Homo sapiens: one gene and its partners. The gene in region 4 interacts genetically with the main gene of each other region. Each region holds a gene or a part of one and is shown on either strand. Other genes may lie near its edges.

Region 1 (3,735 bases), on a different chromosome or scaffold from region 4:
GAAGAAGGGGCTGGGAAGCTGGAAAAGGGGGTGAGGAGCTACTCCAGGTATAAGGAAGAGAGTTGGGGAGGTTCCTGGGGCTGGGGGCAGGGGAGTAAGGTTGCCAGGTAAGATGCAGGACAGCGAGTTAACATAGAATTTTAGATAAACAAGAAATAGCTTTTTAGTATGTCCCAAAAATTACACAGGACATTCTCACACTAAAAAAGTATGCATCTGTGCATCTGAAATTCCAGTTTAACTGGGTGTCTTCTATTTTTATTTGCTGTATCTGGCAACCCTAGTGGGGAGGGGGCCTGTGGGTGGTTCTGGGGATTCAGTGGTGCATGGGGAGGGGTTGGGGAATGTTGTGAGGATGCAATGGAGCCTGGGGAGGGTATGGGTGGGGAGGAGGTGGTCTTGGGTGCAGAGAGGGGCCCAGGGCTCACCGGCAGATGATCTTCTCTGTGCGGATGGCCCGATTTCCCACCCCAAGTCGGAGCTTGCGGTTGAGTTGAAGCGCAAACCACACGTCGGAGCGCTCGGGAGTCAGGTCCCATGCTGTGTCCCCCTCTTTGTTCCGCAGCTCAGGGTTGGCCCCACGTGACAGGAATAACCTGAAGAGGGGACAGGATGCCCAATGCAGGGTCTGAGGCTGCAAGAAGTGGGGGCAGGGGCATCAAGGGCGGGGCAGGGGCTCACAGCACGCAGTCATGGTAGCTCTCCCGAGCTGCGATGTGCAGGGGGGTGTCCCCATGGTAGTTGACAGCATGGAGGTCACAGCGCGCATTCAGAAGGACTTCGGCGATGGCGGCGCTGCCCGTGAAGGAGGCCCAGTGCAGGCAGATGTTCTCCTCCTGTGGAGGTAGGAGGGGAACAGATGAGGTGCAGGCAGCTGGGCCCTTGAATCCAGCCTCCACCTTGCTCAGGGGCCTGGGGCTGCCCTACCTCAACCAAACGCTCACTCACGTTGTCAGTGAGGGTGACGTCGGCGCCCCGCGTCAGTAGCATGCGGATCACCTCGATGTGCTTGTGCTCTGCAGCCCAGATGATGGGCGTCCACCCCCCACTGTCCTGTGGGTGGGAAGGGAGTGAGGGTGGGGGCAGCTGGCCCTGCTCACCAAAGCAGCAAATGGTCAAGATTGGCTGTGTGTGTGAATCCCAGCTCCACCATTCACAAGCTGTGGGACCCTGGGTAAGTCACTTAACGTCTCTGGGTCGCAGTTTCTTCATCTAAAAAATGGGACTAGTAGGGTCGGGCGCGGTGGCTCATGCCTGTAATCCCAGCACTTTGGGAGGCCGAGGCGGGCGGATCACGAGGTCAGGAGATGGAGGCCATTGTGGCCAACACGGTGAAACCCTGTCTCTACTAAAAAATAGAAAAAATTAGCTGGGCGTGGTGGCAGGCGCCTGTAGTCCCAGCTACTAGGGAGGCTGAGGCAGAATGGCGTGAACCCGGGAGGCGGAGCTTGCAGTGAGCCAAGATCGTGCCACTGCACTCCAGCCTGGGCGACAGAGCAAGACTCCGTCTCAAAAAACAAACAAACAAAAATGGGACTAGTAGCGTCTACCATCTGATGCCAGAGAGAAAATAAAGTAATTGTTCTCTTTCCAAAAAATACAGCCAGGAGCTGGTCATGGAGGTGCATGCCTGTAGTCCCAGCTACTCATGTGACTGAGATGGGAGGGTTGCTTGAGCCCAGGATTTCGAGGCTGCAGAGAGCTATGACTGTCTGTGAACTGCTACTGTACTTCAGCCTGGGTGACATAGCAAGACCCTGTCTCTTAAAAGAAAAAACGAACAAAAATTTCCTAAGTCTGCCCACTCAAAAGTCCTAGAAGCAGCGACAACCCAATAACAATAAACACTCCTAGGAACATAGATTGTATTCTCTAAAAAATGCTTCTGGCCGGGCGCTGTGGCTCACGAGGTCAGGAGTTCAAGATCAGCCTGGCCAATATGGTGAAACCCCGTCTCTACTAAAAATACAAAAATTAGCCGGGCATGGTGGTGGGCGCCTGTAATCCCAGCTACTCGGGAGGCTGAGGCAGGAGAATGGCGTGAACCTGGGAGGCGGAGCTTGCAGTAAGCTGTGATCACGCCATTGCACTCCAGCCTGGGCAACAGAGTGAGACTCCGTCTCAAAAAAAAAAAAAAAAGTTTCCCATAAAGGAAGCAGAGTTTCTTAGAGAAATGGTGGATTCTGAGTTGGGGGCAGGAAATGTGCTGAAAGGTCAGGAGGCTCTCAAAGGCCACTGGGCCACTGGGTCATGTCACAGCCACAGAGGCCTCTTAAAGGGGCTTCTTCTGGACAATGATGGAATAATTCAAAGACTGAGAAGAATGCCAATAAATGACTAAAACACATCCAATGTATGACAACCCAAGAGTTAATAAAAAGCCTCACTGGACACTTTCAGAGATTAAGACAGGAACTGATTATTCTGAAACTTGATAAAGAGAAAGAAACGAGAAAGAAAAGAATGAAGAGAAATACAAATGAGGAAGAAGAAAGCAATGAGGACAGACACGAGCAGTGTGAGGTCAGATGTAGGAAAGGCGGCCCAAAGCCTGAGGCCAAGCCAAGGAACCCAGGCACCAGGGACCCAGAGGGGCTGGGCTGGGTGGGCCGCTGACCTGGGCGTTGACGTCCACCTGTCCTGTGCTCAGCAGCAGGCTGACCATCTCCAAGTTCCCGATTTTGGCTGCGTGGTGGAGGCAGGTGGAACCGTCCTCCTCCTGAGGGAGACACGGGCAAATGAGCCTTTGGGCTGGCACCCCAAACCTGGTCCCTGACTCCGGGGGCCACGCCCTGCTGCCTGCGCGCACACCTTGCTATAGACACAGCCACCACGCTGCACCATGTAACGGGCTACCTCCAGGTGGTTGTTCACCACGGCCTCCATCAGTGGCGTCCGCTGCTGTTTGTCCACTGCATTTATGTTGGCTCCAGCCTGTGAGGGGGCAGGAGGGCTGGCACCAGGGAGGCATGGGGCAGGGGAGGGGCCTAAGGGCCTGGTGAATGAGGCATGGGGCCGGGCCCGTGCTGACCTGCAGCAGCACATGGCAGATCTCCACGGAGCCCTTCTGGGCGGCTGCATGCAGGGGCGTGCGCTTGCTCTGCTGGTCGCTCTGGAAGTTGGGGTCCAGGTTGTCCACTGCGGGGAGAGCCCGCCACACCGGGAGAGGGAGGGACAAGTGGTAAGCAAGCTAGGGGGCAGGTGGCACTTCTTTCAGGAAGGCTTCTCAGGGCCCCAAGCTGGATCAGGGCCCCTCCTGGCATTCTCCGAGCTTGCCTCCACCACAGCATTTATCAGAATAAGGAGTCAAAGGCATCAGCTCTGCCTGAATTCAAACCCTGCCTTGCTTCTCAGTACCACTGTGCACTGTGCAAGGTCCCTAACCTCTCTGTGCAAGCCAAGGCTAACAGGTATAAGCACTCAGAACAGGACCCAGCACCTATGAGTCACCACATCCCCATCGTTATGGGTTACATGTGTCTTTTCCCCACCACACTAAGTCCTTCAGGGCAAGGACTGTGTCCTTCACGACTGTACTCCTGGCCCTGTACCCAGTGCCTGGTATATACATGAAGCTTGGTCAAGGTCTGCTGAAGGAATGGGTGGCACTCACACAGCATCAGGATCACCTTCTGCAGCTCGCCCTGCTTCACGGACAGGTACAACTGCCGAGGGTGGAAACGGAGCTTCTTCCGCCTGCCAAGGGAGCACGGGAGCGGGGAGAGAAGGGGAGCT
Region 2 (3,735 bases), on a different chromosome or scaffold from region 4:
AGCTCGATGCCCTGGTCCCTGCTCAGGGACGTGGGTGGGTGCCTTGTCTGTCCCCACACCCTGGTCCCAGCCTCGTGTGTCTCTGGGCAGGAACATCGCCAGGCGGGGCCTCTGGGTTCCCAGCGCCTTAGCCCAGGGCCCGCCAGCTGCCAGCGAAGGGTGCCTTCCCGAAGGGGGTGCCTTCCCGAAGGGGCCTCCTCAGCAGGCGCTGGGCTCTTCCCTTCCCGGAGGCGTGGCCAGAAGTTCCCCTTGGGCCTCCGGTCCTCGGGGCGTAAGGGCCACGGTGTATTTTTGGGATGAAAACCAGTCCTTCCCGGGGAGGAGCCGCAGGTTCCTGGGGGTCAGGCAGGCAGCGCGGGCCGTGCTCCTCCACTCTGCTGACCGCGTCTCGCCGGGCCTTGCAGCCGGCACAGTCTTCACTACCGTAGAAGACCTTGGCTCCAAGATACTCCTCACCTGCTCCTTGAATGACAGCGCCACAGAGGTCACAGGGCACCGCTGGCTGAAGGGGGGCGTGGTGCTGAAGGAGGACGCGCTGCCCGGCCAGAAAACGGAGTTCAAGTGAGTGCCTGACCACGCCATGCCGCCACCTGCCCCTTCTCACGGCTCTCTTGCCGCCAGCGGCCTGTGGTCCGTGAGAACAAAAGACCGGTCGGCAGGCTTGATCCAGGCGGAAGTTAGGGACCAGCTCCGCGCAGACCCCCAGAGGGAAACCCCAGGGAGGGGTCTGAGGGGCGTCCTTGTGAGGCAGGGGGCTCCAGCAGCCCTGGCAGGAGTCCCCATTGCTTGCTCCTCACTAGGTCCCGGGCACGAAAGGGCGCCACACTGCCAGGTCCCGGGCACGTGTGCGGGCCTCCCAGGCTCTGTGCTCCTGGCACAAGAGGGCACCACACTGAGGCATGCCCTGCTCGGACCCCAGACGCTGTCATGGCCGGAGCTTTGTCATAACTGGGGCTGGGACGGCCCTGGGAGCACAGAGCCTTTTGTTTTCAGGCTGACTGGGAAGACGGTCACAGGGTGTGGGGTGCAGAGCAGGGACCAGAGGTGTGGGGTTCATCAGTCGGGGAGAAGGGGGTCTGTTGGTTCTCTCACCTGTGGGGTCTTGCCAGCCTGGCTCTGTCCTTGGGGCCGCACGGGGACCCCAGGAGTTCTTTTGAGGTTCAGACTTGACTGGGACAGTTTTGCTTTTTCACTGTGCCGTGGTTGGGCCCCTGGAGAACCCTGGGTCCTTGGAGGCGTCCTGCAGAGCTGGTACGCGGCTCACCTGCCTGCTGTGGTTGCAGGGTGGACTCCGACGACCAGTGGGGAGAGTACTCCTGCGTCTTCCTCCCCGAGCCCATGGGCACGGCCAACATCCAGCTCCACGGTGAGTCCTGCAGCCAGGGGTACCGGGCACCACCGACTGTCGGGAGAAGTTGTTGGCCTGAGGCACCCGGCACATCCCAGAGCCCTGGCCCCCTGCTCCCTGGAGGGGAACAGCCCTCCTGCGGGAGGCCGGGGATGGGGGCGGGCCTGCGGTTCCAGGCTCCTCTCTCTCACCCTCCTGTCAGGGCCTCCCAGAGTGAAGGCTGTGAAGTCGTCAGAACACATCAACGAGGGGGAGACGGCCATGCTGGTCTGCAAGTCAGAGTCCGTGCCACCTGTCACTGACTGGGCCTGGTACAAGATCACTGACTCTGAGGACAAGGTGAGAAGCCAAGGAGGCTGGGGGTCCTGGACCCAGCCCTCAGGACTGGGTGAGAGGCCTAGACTGGGGGTCCCGGACCCAGCCCTCAGGACTGGGTGAGGGGCCTAGACTGGGGGTCCCGGACCCAGCCCTCAGGACTGGGTGAGGGGCCTAGACTGGGGGTCCCGGACCCAGCCCTCCGGACTGGGTGAGGGGCCTAGACTGGGGGTCCCGGACCCAGCCCTCCGGACTGGGTGAGGGGCCTAGACTGGGGGTCCCGGACCCAGCCCTCTGGACTGCAGCCCTCCAGACTGGGTGAGGGGCCTAGACTGGGGGTCCCGGACCCAGCCCTCAGGACTGGGTGAGGGGCCTAGACTGGGGGTCCCGGACCCAGCCCTCCGGACTGGGTGAGGGGCCTAGACTGGGGGTCCCGGACTCAGCCCTCCGGACTGGGTGAGGGGCCTAGACTGGGGGTCCCGGACTCAGCCCTCAGGACTGGGTGAGGGGCCTAGACTGGGGGTCCTGGACTCAGCCCTTGCCTTTGGTCCCCTAGGCCCTCATGAACGGCTCCGAGAGCAGGTTCTTCGTGAGTTCCTCGCAGGGCCGGTCAGAGCTACACATTGAGAACCTGAACATGGAGGCCGACCCCGGCCAGTACCGGTGCAACGGCACCAGCTCCAAGGGCTCCGACCAGGCCATCATCACGCTCCGCGTGCGCAGCCACCTGGCCGCCCTCTGGCCCTTCCTGGGCATCGTGGCTGAGGTGCTGGTGCTGGTCACCATCATCTTCATCTACGAGAAGCGCCGGAAGCCCGAGGACGTCCTGGATGGTGAGCCGTCTGCCCTCCTGCCCACATGCCCTGCTCTCGGGGTGGCCCAGGGCCACTCCTGGTCCGTCCCTGCCAGCCCCACCGCTGACCCAGAGCTTGGAACTGAGGAGCCCCAGGCAGGGAGTTGATGGGACCCCGAAAGAAAGTGTGGGATGGAGGGTCTAGCCCCGGGCAGCTGCGGCTCAGTGGGCAGCGGGACCCCGGGAGGAGGAGGCGGCACCTCCGCCCCACAGCCTCACCCGGCCCTTCCCTCCCGCTCACTTGGCTGCAAGCCAGTGTCCTCCGTGGTGAGCCGGCCCTTGCTGCTCTGCATGATCAGGCTCGGGAACCTGAGGTCAGCCATGCTGTGCTCCGGCAGCCCCTGCCTGCCTCCTCGCGGAGCCCTTCTGCCCCTTGGGCTGCGTGTGCCGGGGCGAGGCCTGTGTGGGGCCTGTGATGGCAGCTCCTGGAAAACGCTGTGGGGCAGGGGTGAGGCCCACGAGGCCATGGGGACAGCTCACCATGGGGAGCACACCTGCAGGTGGGGAGGGCTGCCTTTCCCCACAGCACTCAGAAGATGCACGTGGCCGGGGCTGATGAGCTGCCCCGAGCCACCCCTGGGGGTCACTGAGGGCAGGGCTGGCAGCACAGATGCCCCTGCTCGGGGCCTGAGTGGGGCCAGTGCTGACAGGCTGTCCTCTCGTCCTCTTTTTCATGGCGGCGGTCCTTCTTCAGATGACGACGCCGGCTCTGCACCCCTGTAAGTTCCAGCTGTGGGGGTCGGGGGTCCCAAGGAGCGGCCTGCTGCCCCAGGCCTTTAAAACACAAAGGCAGAGCCCCTGGGCTTCAGTATTCGGGGGTCCTGGGGGCCGGGGTGGGCAGGGGTGACTTGGAGAGAGTGACTTGCGGGGGACACCCTCTCACCCGGCCCCTCGTGCCCCAGGAAGAGCAGCGGGCAGCACCAGAATGACAAAGGCAAGAACGTCCGCCAGAGGAACTCTTCCTGAGGCAGGTGCGGTGGGCGGGAGCTCCTCCTGAGCCAGGTGTGGTGGGTGGGTGGGCGGGAACTCCTGAGCCAGGTGTGGTGGGCGGGATCTGCTAGCCAGGTGTGGGCTCCTGGGTCCCGCCTGTGGGTCGCTGGGAGGTGGGTCCAGTCTGAGCGCCCCTCCCTGTCCACAGGTGGCCCGAGGACGCTCCCTGCTCCACGTCTGCGCCGCCGCCGGAGTCCACTCCCAGTGCTTGCAAGATTCCAAGTTCTCA
Region 3 (2,448 bases), on a different chromosome or scaffold from region 4:
AGAGGGAACCAGGCTGCCGGCCCAGTGCCCAGCTGCTCCCCATCCCTCACACCCTGGCCCTGGAGCCCTTGGCCACATGCCCCATCCCAGGACCGCCTAGTTGTGAGAGAAGCCCCCGTGGGAGAAGGCAGGGAGGTCGGGGGCACAGGCAGCAGCCTGGGGCAGGCAAGCTAGGGGGTTGACCTCGCAGGCCCCAGCATCCTGGTCCCCTCGGAAGTAGATGGAGTCGGCAGAGTAGAAGGAGGGGTCTTCGTCAAAGAAGTTATAGGGTCGGAGGAAGAAGCCCACGCCGTTCCCCACAGTCACTGTGTTAGGAATGTCCTCTGCATGTGGGATATGCAGAAAACCAGCTGTCACCCAGGCCACCAAATCCTAGCAGGGGAGAAGAAAGAGGATCACGAGGTCTGGCTTTGCTGAGGACATGCCCTGGTAGGGATTCAGCTCACCAGCCCAAGGATCATGAGTCTTTAAACATTTTTTCCTGCTGGGTAGGAGTCAAAGCATAAGTAGTCCATTTCATATTAGGAACACCTGCTTCCCTGTCCCTGGCTTGCAGCCTCCATCTCTGACATTTCCCATCATATCGCCCATTGCCTATCTACCCCCAGAGGGTGACACCCACAGGCTACTTCAGCTCCTCTTCCCCTAACTCTCCAAGAGTTCCCCACAACTGAGGAAAGAAGGGTGGAGGAAAAAGAACCAGCGCTTGGGAAGCAGAACCAGGCCAACATTGTGAAATTCATCAAGTCAGGAATGGGAGAAGCTTCAGATACAGGAGATGTCATTTTCCCTGGTAACTTCCATCCCTCCTGAGTCCTGGAGCCTGGAAAGGACTCAGTCCATGAAACTGGAACTAAGAGGGCTCTAAGATCTCAAGGACAGGCCCAGGGCCTCACTCAGTGTCTGCATATGGACACCCAGCTCAGGAAGGTTCCCTCAAAGGATAATGATCAGATATACTGAAGTGCAGAAGGCAGGAATCAGCACCACCCCTGAGAAGTGCAGGTGGTTTTCAGGGACCCTCCCAAGAGAAAGCAAGGCTCATCCTGTACCCTCTACCCCGGCCAGCTGACCTTTCCAGCAATGGTCTCATTGTTGATGAAGTCACTGAAATCCACAGTGGGGGCCCAAGGGTCATTCTGATTGAAAACGCTGCTGCTACTGGGCTCCTCCTCCTTCCGCTGGGTCACAGCCAGCTGGTACCTAGGGAGGCACTGGTCAGGCCTCCATGGCCATTGACCCCATCCTGCTGCCTGATTATGATGAAAGGGAACTGAGTGCTCAGAGCTCAGCTTCCCCAATTGCAGTCACACAACTGACTCGGCGCTACAGAATCCCCGACGTCACCCTAAGGGGGGTCAAGTCCTCCTGTTTATCCCCAGCCATTTAACAGTACAACCCCTCTCCCATCCAAAACAGAAGAGAGTTCTCACTCCTGGGCTTTAGCCTCCAAGGGGAAAATGTGCCCATCATGGTTTCTTTGGATAACTAGAAAAACCTTTGGCCAGGCATTGTGGCTCATGCCTGTAATCACAGCACTTTGGGAGACCAAGGAGGGTGGATCATGAGGTCAGGAGTTCGAGACCAGCCTGGCCAACATGGTGAAACCCTATCTCTACTAAAAATACAAAAATTAGCCATGTGTGGTGGCGTGCACCTGTAATCCCAGCTACTGGGGAGGCTGAGGCAGGAGAATCGCTTGAAACTGGGAGGCGGAGGATGCAGTGAGATTGCTCCACTGCACTCCGGCCTGGGCAACAGAGCAAAACTCCATCTCAAAAAAAAAAAAAAAAAAGGAAAAGAAAAGCCTTCCTGAGAGAGCTCTCCCCTCACCTACAGTGTGAGCTGAGTGTCCGCCAACACTCCTTTCCCACTCTCACTGCCCCCCTCCTCTCTGACTGCCCGCCACTCACCTCTCCCAGCTGAAGCCTCTCGCCATGGAGCTGTTTTGGGGCAGCGGCTCTCCAGCAAAGCTGAGCATCTGGATGCGGTAGCCCCGGGGGTGACCCCACTTGTTGCTGTGGTTGCTGGCCAGGTACAGGTAGCGAGGGGTGGCGCTTCCCACGAGGAAGGCGGCCTGCTCCTCCATCTCCAGCAGCTTCCGGGTCACCTGCAGCCTCTGCAGCTGGTGCTCAGGGCTCCAGGGCACAGCCATGGGGACAAAGACCATATCCTCGGCCCAGACCCAGTTCTCCAGTCCTGCTCAGGGTGGGATAGGGGAGGGCCTGTCAGGCAACTGCCCTGGCCCCTCTGGACTCTGCCCCCATCTGGCTTCAGAGTGGGGGCCAAAGAGCAGCCCAGAACTGAGTGTGCCCCTCCTTCTCTTCCCTCTCCCCAGGATACCTCCAATCCTTTAGCCAAAGCTGTTGACCTGTAAATTAAAATACTTCATCAGGGAGTTCATTCCATTTCACTCATTCATTCTTTCAACATTCATTAGCAGAGAGG
Region 4 (5,568 bases):
CCACAGTGGCCTTCCTATGCCCCTTGAAACAGTCCATCTTGTTTCCACCTCAGGGCCTTTGCACTTCCTGTTTTCCTCCTCTAATTTTTTCTCCCCCAAGCTTCAAAGTGGCCCCTTTACTTTGTCCAGCCCTCAGTCTCATGTCACCCCATGGAGGAGGCCATCCAAGTTTACTCTATCTAGAGGGGAAGCCCTCAGGCATCCTGTGTCTTTGCTCCTGTTGTTACCTTCATAGATCTCATCACAATTTGCAGTGTTTTCTCCCATCTGTCTATGTGCTTGTTTATCATCTGTCAGCCCTGGGGAATGTGAGTTCCTTATCTGTCCTGTTCACCACTGTATCACCAGCACCTAGGTTGGGGGGCCACACAGCAGGCACTTAATAAGTATTTGTCACGTATATAAAGATGAGAAAACTGAAGCTCAGAGAGGTTAAGTGACTTGGCCAAGATCACGCAGCTGGTAAGGGATAGAGCCAGAATCGAGGCAAAGTCTGACTCTATCTTAACTGCTCTAGGCTGAAAGATGATGAGGCTTATACATGGGGCCAGCAGCTGACTTGGGAAGGTCCCACACCTGGCCTCTGGGCATCGAGGCTGCTGCTTTGCACTGGCTCAGCCTCCAGAATTCCTCCACTTCCTGCTGGTCCCTTCACCCTGAGACTCAGGATGGAGGGGCGCTAAGACTGTGGGCTCGCTTAGATAGTCCCAGTTTCTGATCCCGATGCTGCCCACCTCTATGCCATGACATATGGGCAAATTATTTCACTTCTCTGAGCTTTAGTTTCCTCTGAGAAAAATGCTTACCTTATGGGGTGGTGCATGGATTAACTGAGATAATCTGTGTAAGCACTTCGCTGTGGCCTACAGTAAGTGCTTGGTAAATGTTAGTACTTCTATTTTTGGCTTGGGGAGGGGCTCAGAGTCTCTGAAGACTGTTGGTTTTGAGTCCTCCTCTGATCCCCTTCCCAGTGGGACTTCTGAAGGGTCCCACCTCTGACCTTTCACTGTCTAAAGCTAGGCTGGACCCAAACAAATATAGCTCCCTCCGCCTGGCTCAAAGGCCTCCTTTGTCCTCTGGGGACAATGTTCCTAACATGTCCTGGGTCTCGGTAACCGTCCTGCCCTGATTTGATGAATGTGTCACTAATTATTATATCCAGAGTGGCCTAAATTTGGGCTGCCTCTCCTCCTTCCTCCTCCAGTGCAGGGGCTGCAGCTATAATGGGAACAGGCCCTCTGGGAGAGGTGCCCTGCAGTCTGGCTGGAGACCCTCTTGGAGTGCACACTCGTCTCATCTAGACTGAGCCACAGGGAGCTTGCCTAGGGCTCAGGAGAGAAGCCGTGTCTGCCCAGGACAGTCAGAGAGGGGCAGGGTCTCTCTTCAGAGCATTGTGCCCCAAAGAGGGACCCAGACCAGTGGAAGCATGCCCAGGGAAGGTGCCCAGGATGAGGCTGGCCTGAAAATCACACTCCGGGAGGACCGTGGCAGGGGTGGGTACACCCTGCAGGGGACTTAGCAGCTACAACAAAGCTGCTGGAGTCCGTCTAGGGCTCTTCCAAGCTGGAGGTTTGGTCTCTGTGTGGTTCCAAATGGCAGAACTGAGGTTCAGGGCAAAGCCCCTCCAGCAGGGAAGAGTGTTCCCCAGTGGTGCAAGGGGCTACCCCATGGGAAGTGAGTTTGCTGTCACTGAAGAACAAAAAGCAGAGGTTTGATGGACATCTGGCAGGGTCACCCTAGAAGGGGCTGCTGAGGAAGCAGGAGCTGGATAGAGTGACCTTTTGGCACCAGACTCCCAAGGTCACAGGATCAGGGGTTAGAAGGCCAGAATTCCCCCGCCCTAGCTAAGGACAATTGAACTGCATGTTCTTGGGCAAATTGCTTGAACTCTTAGGCCTTAGTTTCCTGCTCTGCAAAATGGAGACAATATGAACTACCAGCCACTGATACCATGAGGATCAGCAGCGGAGATCCATGAAGTCCCTGCTGAAGGAGCAAGGCTGTGCAGCTGGTGCCAGTCCTAGACTCTGCAATCTCCTTCAGGTAAAAGAAAGGAGAACTGCACGGGCCTAGAGTCTGGTTTTTCTTCTCCCCTGGCCTGCCAGAGATGCAGGAACAAGACTAAGAATGCATCTGTATACCAGGCCCCGTGCTATCTCATTTCATATCCTCACCAACCCTTTGCAGAGGTTGCTATGGCAACCCCCATTGTGAAGAATCTGAGGCTCAGGAAGGTCATGCTACTAAAGGCTGCATGGCTGGAAAGTGGCCTGGTTGAGATTTGGACCCAGCCTGCCTTCTTCCCCACCCACCGTAGCCAGTCATGACAGTATAACTGCAGCTCACCCATCCTGGCACAAAGCATGTGGGCTGGGAGTTGGAAGAGCAGGGGCCCAAACACAGACGCTCTACCTTCCTGAGCTCTGCTTCCTCATCTGAACAGTGGGGAAAATAATCTCACCCACCCCACCTTCCAGCCTAACACAGAGAAATTAAAGCGATTCTGATAATGTCCAGCTCTGCAGGATTAGGGACGTGCAGAGGAGAGAGGGGCTCCCGGGGTGAGCCACACCCACGGTGGGTTGCTCACCTTCAGGTCCCGGTGCACCACCCCCATCTGGTGGCAGTGCAGCACAGCCTCCAGGATCTGCTGGATACAGTGACTAGGGAGAGAGAGAGGAAGGGGTCATGGTGGTGTGAGCACAGGCCTCCCCTGGGAAGCTGACAGCAGGCAAGAGTGCCCTGTCCCCGGGTGCCATTGCCAGGCAGCACCTGACACTCACCTGGCATCCGCCTCACTGTAATACTCCCGGGCCACGATATCTTCAAACAGTTCCCCACCAGTGACCCTGGGGAGACAGGCATGGAATCACCCTCTAATAGAGGCGACAGGTGCTGCCTCATCTGGAGGAGTCTCCAGGAAACTAAGGATGGGGCCCAGGGACCTCAGGACCTCAGCCACAAAAGGAGGGGCCCCAGGGTCACGGGGGTGTCCCCTGCTGCAATGCCCTTCCTGTCTTCCAGAGCACCCTTCCATTGACTCCAGTCCCCTCTCCTCCTCCATCCCCGGCCCTTCTTCCCCACCTAACCCAGGCTGGAGTCCGGAGGTTAGGGAAAGTCAGAGCACATCACTAGGCTCATTAGGAAGCCTATGGCCTCCCCCATGATCAATATCTCAAAGGCTATTTTTTATCGATGAGACTGGCCCCATCACTGATTTTCATTGCCATACCAGGAACTACTGTGGCCTATCATTTCATTATTGCTTCTCTTTGAATCAACACTCCTCAAAAAAAAATTAAACATATTCCAGAAGGAAACTTTATATTGCCACTGAAAATGGAAAACCAGCATCACTGGCCACAAATAGAAGAGAAGCAAAAATAAATATAGGATGAAAGCTAAAAGTGTTTGTTGGTGTTTTAGGAAAGTCAGCTTGCACTGCTTGGGTGGCAGGCCCACCACATTTGGGGAAACTCTGGACCACAAGAGGGAATTCAGCCCAAGAGGTCCAGTGAGGCCATCACTGGTTAGGCAGCCCCAACACCGTTGGCGCATCCCAGGGCGGGGCCAAACTCACAGGTCGAAGATCAGGTAGTGGTGTCCCTCCTCTGAGATGCTGTCATGTAGTCGGACTGTGGGCGGGGCAAGGCAGTTGGTTACAGTGGGACACACTGCTGCACAGGCCCGCCCTCCCTCTCTCCCCTCCCGTGTATATCCAACACCCCCCGCTCCCAGACAGTCACTGAGTATACACCAGGTGCCAGGTGCTTTGACAAGCGCTGGTGAACAAGGGCTCACTGCATTGAGTCCGAATAGACCTCAGGCATTACTGAAAGAGGGCTGGGCTTCAACATGAAAGATGCCTGTTTAGGTCAGAGTTTAGCGCCCTCCCCTCTCCGAAACCCTGTTTGGTTGCTGGGCAGGCCCAAGTCATGGAAAGCCTGTGACTCCAATCTCTGCCACTTACTAGCCGTGTGACTTCTGGCAAGTTGCTAGGCCTTTCTGAGCCTCTCTTTCCTTGCCTGGACAATGAGAATGAAACTCCTGGACTTGCAGGCTTGTTATGAGAGTTCCAGGAGGCATGCAGTTGGTGCTCACTCAGTGCTGCCTGAGCTAATATCCTGCTCTGCTCCCAAGTCTGAGGAGATAATGGAGCATGGAGGCCAGAGGCAGGAGTGAAAGGGTCCCTGCGTTCTGGCATGCTGAGGAGCTGTCATCTCTTCACACCCCATTTACCCAGAACAGAGGCAAAGCTCCCAGGAGCCCAGGGCTCCCAGCATGCACCCCTGAGCTATTAGAAGGAAGGGCCTGAGTCCTGGGGCTGACTCTGGGACCACATCCTGTCAGTCAAGAGCAAGTCTCACAGGACAGGGCTCACATCCTTCCCCGCACCACAGCCTAAAAATGTCCATGCAGGGGCGTGCTGGCTCAGTGAATGACGATTCATCCGCACAATGGAAAATGGCACAGCTGCTAAAATAATGCGGCAGTTATGTATCTACTGGTTCAGAGTCATCTCCAAATTATGTTGCTTGGTGAAAAAGCAAAGTGCAAAACAGTATGCGTAGTACTTTTTTAAAGGATGTATTTAAGTTTATATATGGCATAAGTCTCTCTGGAAGAATACAGACAAGCAGGCACTGAGGGTGCCTCTGGGGAGGGGAATTGGGGGAGTTGGGTCATGAGAGGAGACTCACTTTTCACTATGAATCCTAGTGCCATCTGAATGTTTGCCATGTGCATATATTTCTGGCTCAATATTGAGTCCCCTGAATTGTTTATGGCTGTCGTATTTGCACATAAAATTTGGAGAGAGGCAGGCATCAGATACCCCAGAGCTGATGCCAGTAGGGAGAGGTGGATGGGCACCAGAGATGGAGAGGGAAGGGGCACAGATTAAAATGAAAATTTAGGCTGGGAGCGGTGGCTCACGCTTGTAATCCCAGCACTTTGGGAGGCCGAAGCAGGTGGATCGCCTGAGGTCAGGCGTTTGAGACCAGCCTGGCCAACATGGTGAAACCCCATCTCTACTAAAAATACAAAAATTAGCTGGGTGTGGTGGCCCATGCTTATAATCCCAGCTACTCCAGAGGCTGAGGCAGGATAATTGCTTGAGCCCAGGAGGTGGAGTTTGCAGTGAGCCGAGATCGTGCCACTGCACTACAGCCTGAGCGACAAAGCAACACTCCATCTCAAAAAAATAAAAACTAAAATAAAATAAGATAAAATAAAATAAAATAAAATAAAAATTTAGGCCAGGTGCGGTGGCTCACCCTGTAATCCCAGCACTATGGGAGGCTGAGGTGGGTGGATCACTTGAGCTCAGCAGTTCAAGACCAACCTGGGCAACATGATGAAACCCCATCTCTACAAACAATACAAAAATTAGTTGGGCATGGTGGCACAGGCATTTGTCGTCCCAGCTATTTGGGAAGCTAAGGTGGGAGGGTTGTTTGAGCCCAGGGGGCGGAGGGTGCAGTGAGCCAAGATTGCCCCACTGCATTCCAGCCTAGATAATAGAGTGAGAATGTCTCAAAATAATCACAATAATAATAAAATGAAATT

What was found. Genes that interact genetically often act in the same process or in processes that back each other up.
Region 1: changes in CAMK2A (region 4) and EHMT2 together harm fitness less than expected from each alone (positive genetic interaction), as found in Homo sapiens cells (one large-scale study listed by BioGRID).
Region 2: changes in CAMK2A (region 4) and BSG together harm fitness less than expected from each alone (positive genetic interaction), as found in Homo sapiens cells (one large-scale study listed by BioGRID).
Region 3: changes in CAMK2A (region 4) and AOC3 together harm fitness more than expected from each alone (negative genetic interaction), as found in Homo sapiens cells (one large-scale study listed by BioGRID).

Annotation. Positions count from the first base shown.
Region 1 is NC_000006.12:31,883,964-31,887,698, forward strand, and holds part of EHMT2 (histone-lysine N-methyltransferase EHMT2), read right to left. Parts: intron 3,697-3,735; coding exon 3,614-3,696; intron 3,139-3,613; coding exon 3,032-3,138; intron 2,935-3,031; coding exon 2,812-2,934; intron 2,720-2,811; coding exon 2,618-2,719; intron 1,093-2,617; coding exon of another isoform or gene 1,054-1,092; coding exon 949-1,053; coding exon of another isoform or gene 928-948; intron 837-927; coding exon 682-836; intron 597-681; coding exon 429-596; intron 242-428; exon of another isoform or gene 1-241. UniProt on the Homo sapiens protein: Histone methyltransferase that specifically mono- and dimethylates 'Lys-9' of histone H3 (H3K9me1 and H3K9me2, respectively) in euchromatin.
Region 2 is NC_000019.10:579,096-582,830, forward strand, and holds part of BSG (basigin isoform 1 precursor), read left to right. Parts: intron 1-404; coding exon 405-561; intron 562-1,283; coding exon 1,284-1,366; intron 1,367-1,550; coding exon 1,551-1,687; intron 1,688-2,219; coding exon 2,220-2,496; intron 2,497-3,210; coding exon 3,211-3,235; intron 3,236-3,418; coding exon 3,419-3,482; 3' UTR 3,483-3,487; intron 3,488-3,654; 3' UTR 3,655-3,735.
Region 3 is NC_000017.11:42,854,199-42,856,646, reverse strand, and holds part of AOC3 (amine oxidase [copper-containing] 3), read right to left. Parts: exon of another isoform or gene 2,200-2,448; coding exon 1,914-2,199; intron 1,254-1,913; coding exon of another isoform or gene 1,204-1,253; coding exon 1,074-1,203; intron 373-1,073; coding exon 97-372; 3' UTR 1-96. UniProt on the Homo sapiens protein: Catalyzes the oxidative deamination of primary amines to the corresponding aldehydes with the concomitant production of hydrogen peroxide and ammonia. Has a preference for the primary monoamines methylamine and benzylamine.
Region 4 is NC_000005.10:150,253,983-150,259,550, forward strand, and holds part of CAMK2A (calcium/calmodulin-dependent protein kinase type II subunit alpha), read right to left. Parts: intron 3,636-5,568; coding exon 3,581-3,635; intron 2,850-3,580; coding exon 2,784-2,849; intron 2,664-2,783; coding exon 2,591-2,663; intron 1-2,590. UniProt on the Homo sapiens protein: Calcium/calmodulin-dependent protein kinase that functions autonomously after Ca(2+)/calmodulin-binding and autophosphorylation, and is involved in various processes, such as synaptic plasticity, neurotransmitter release and long-term potentiation.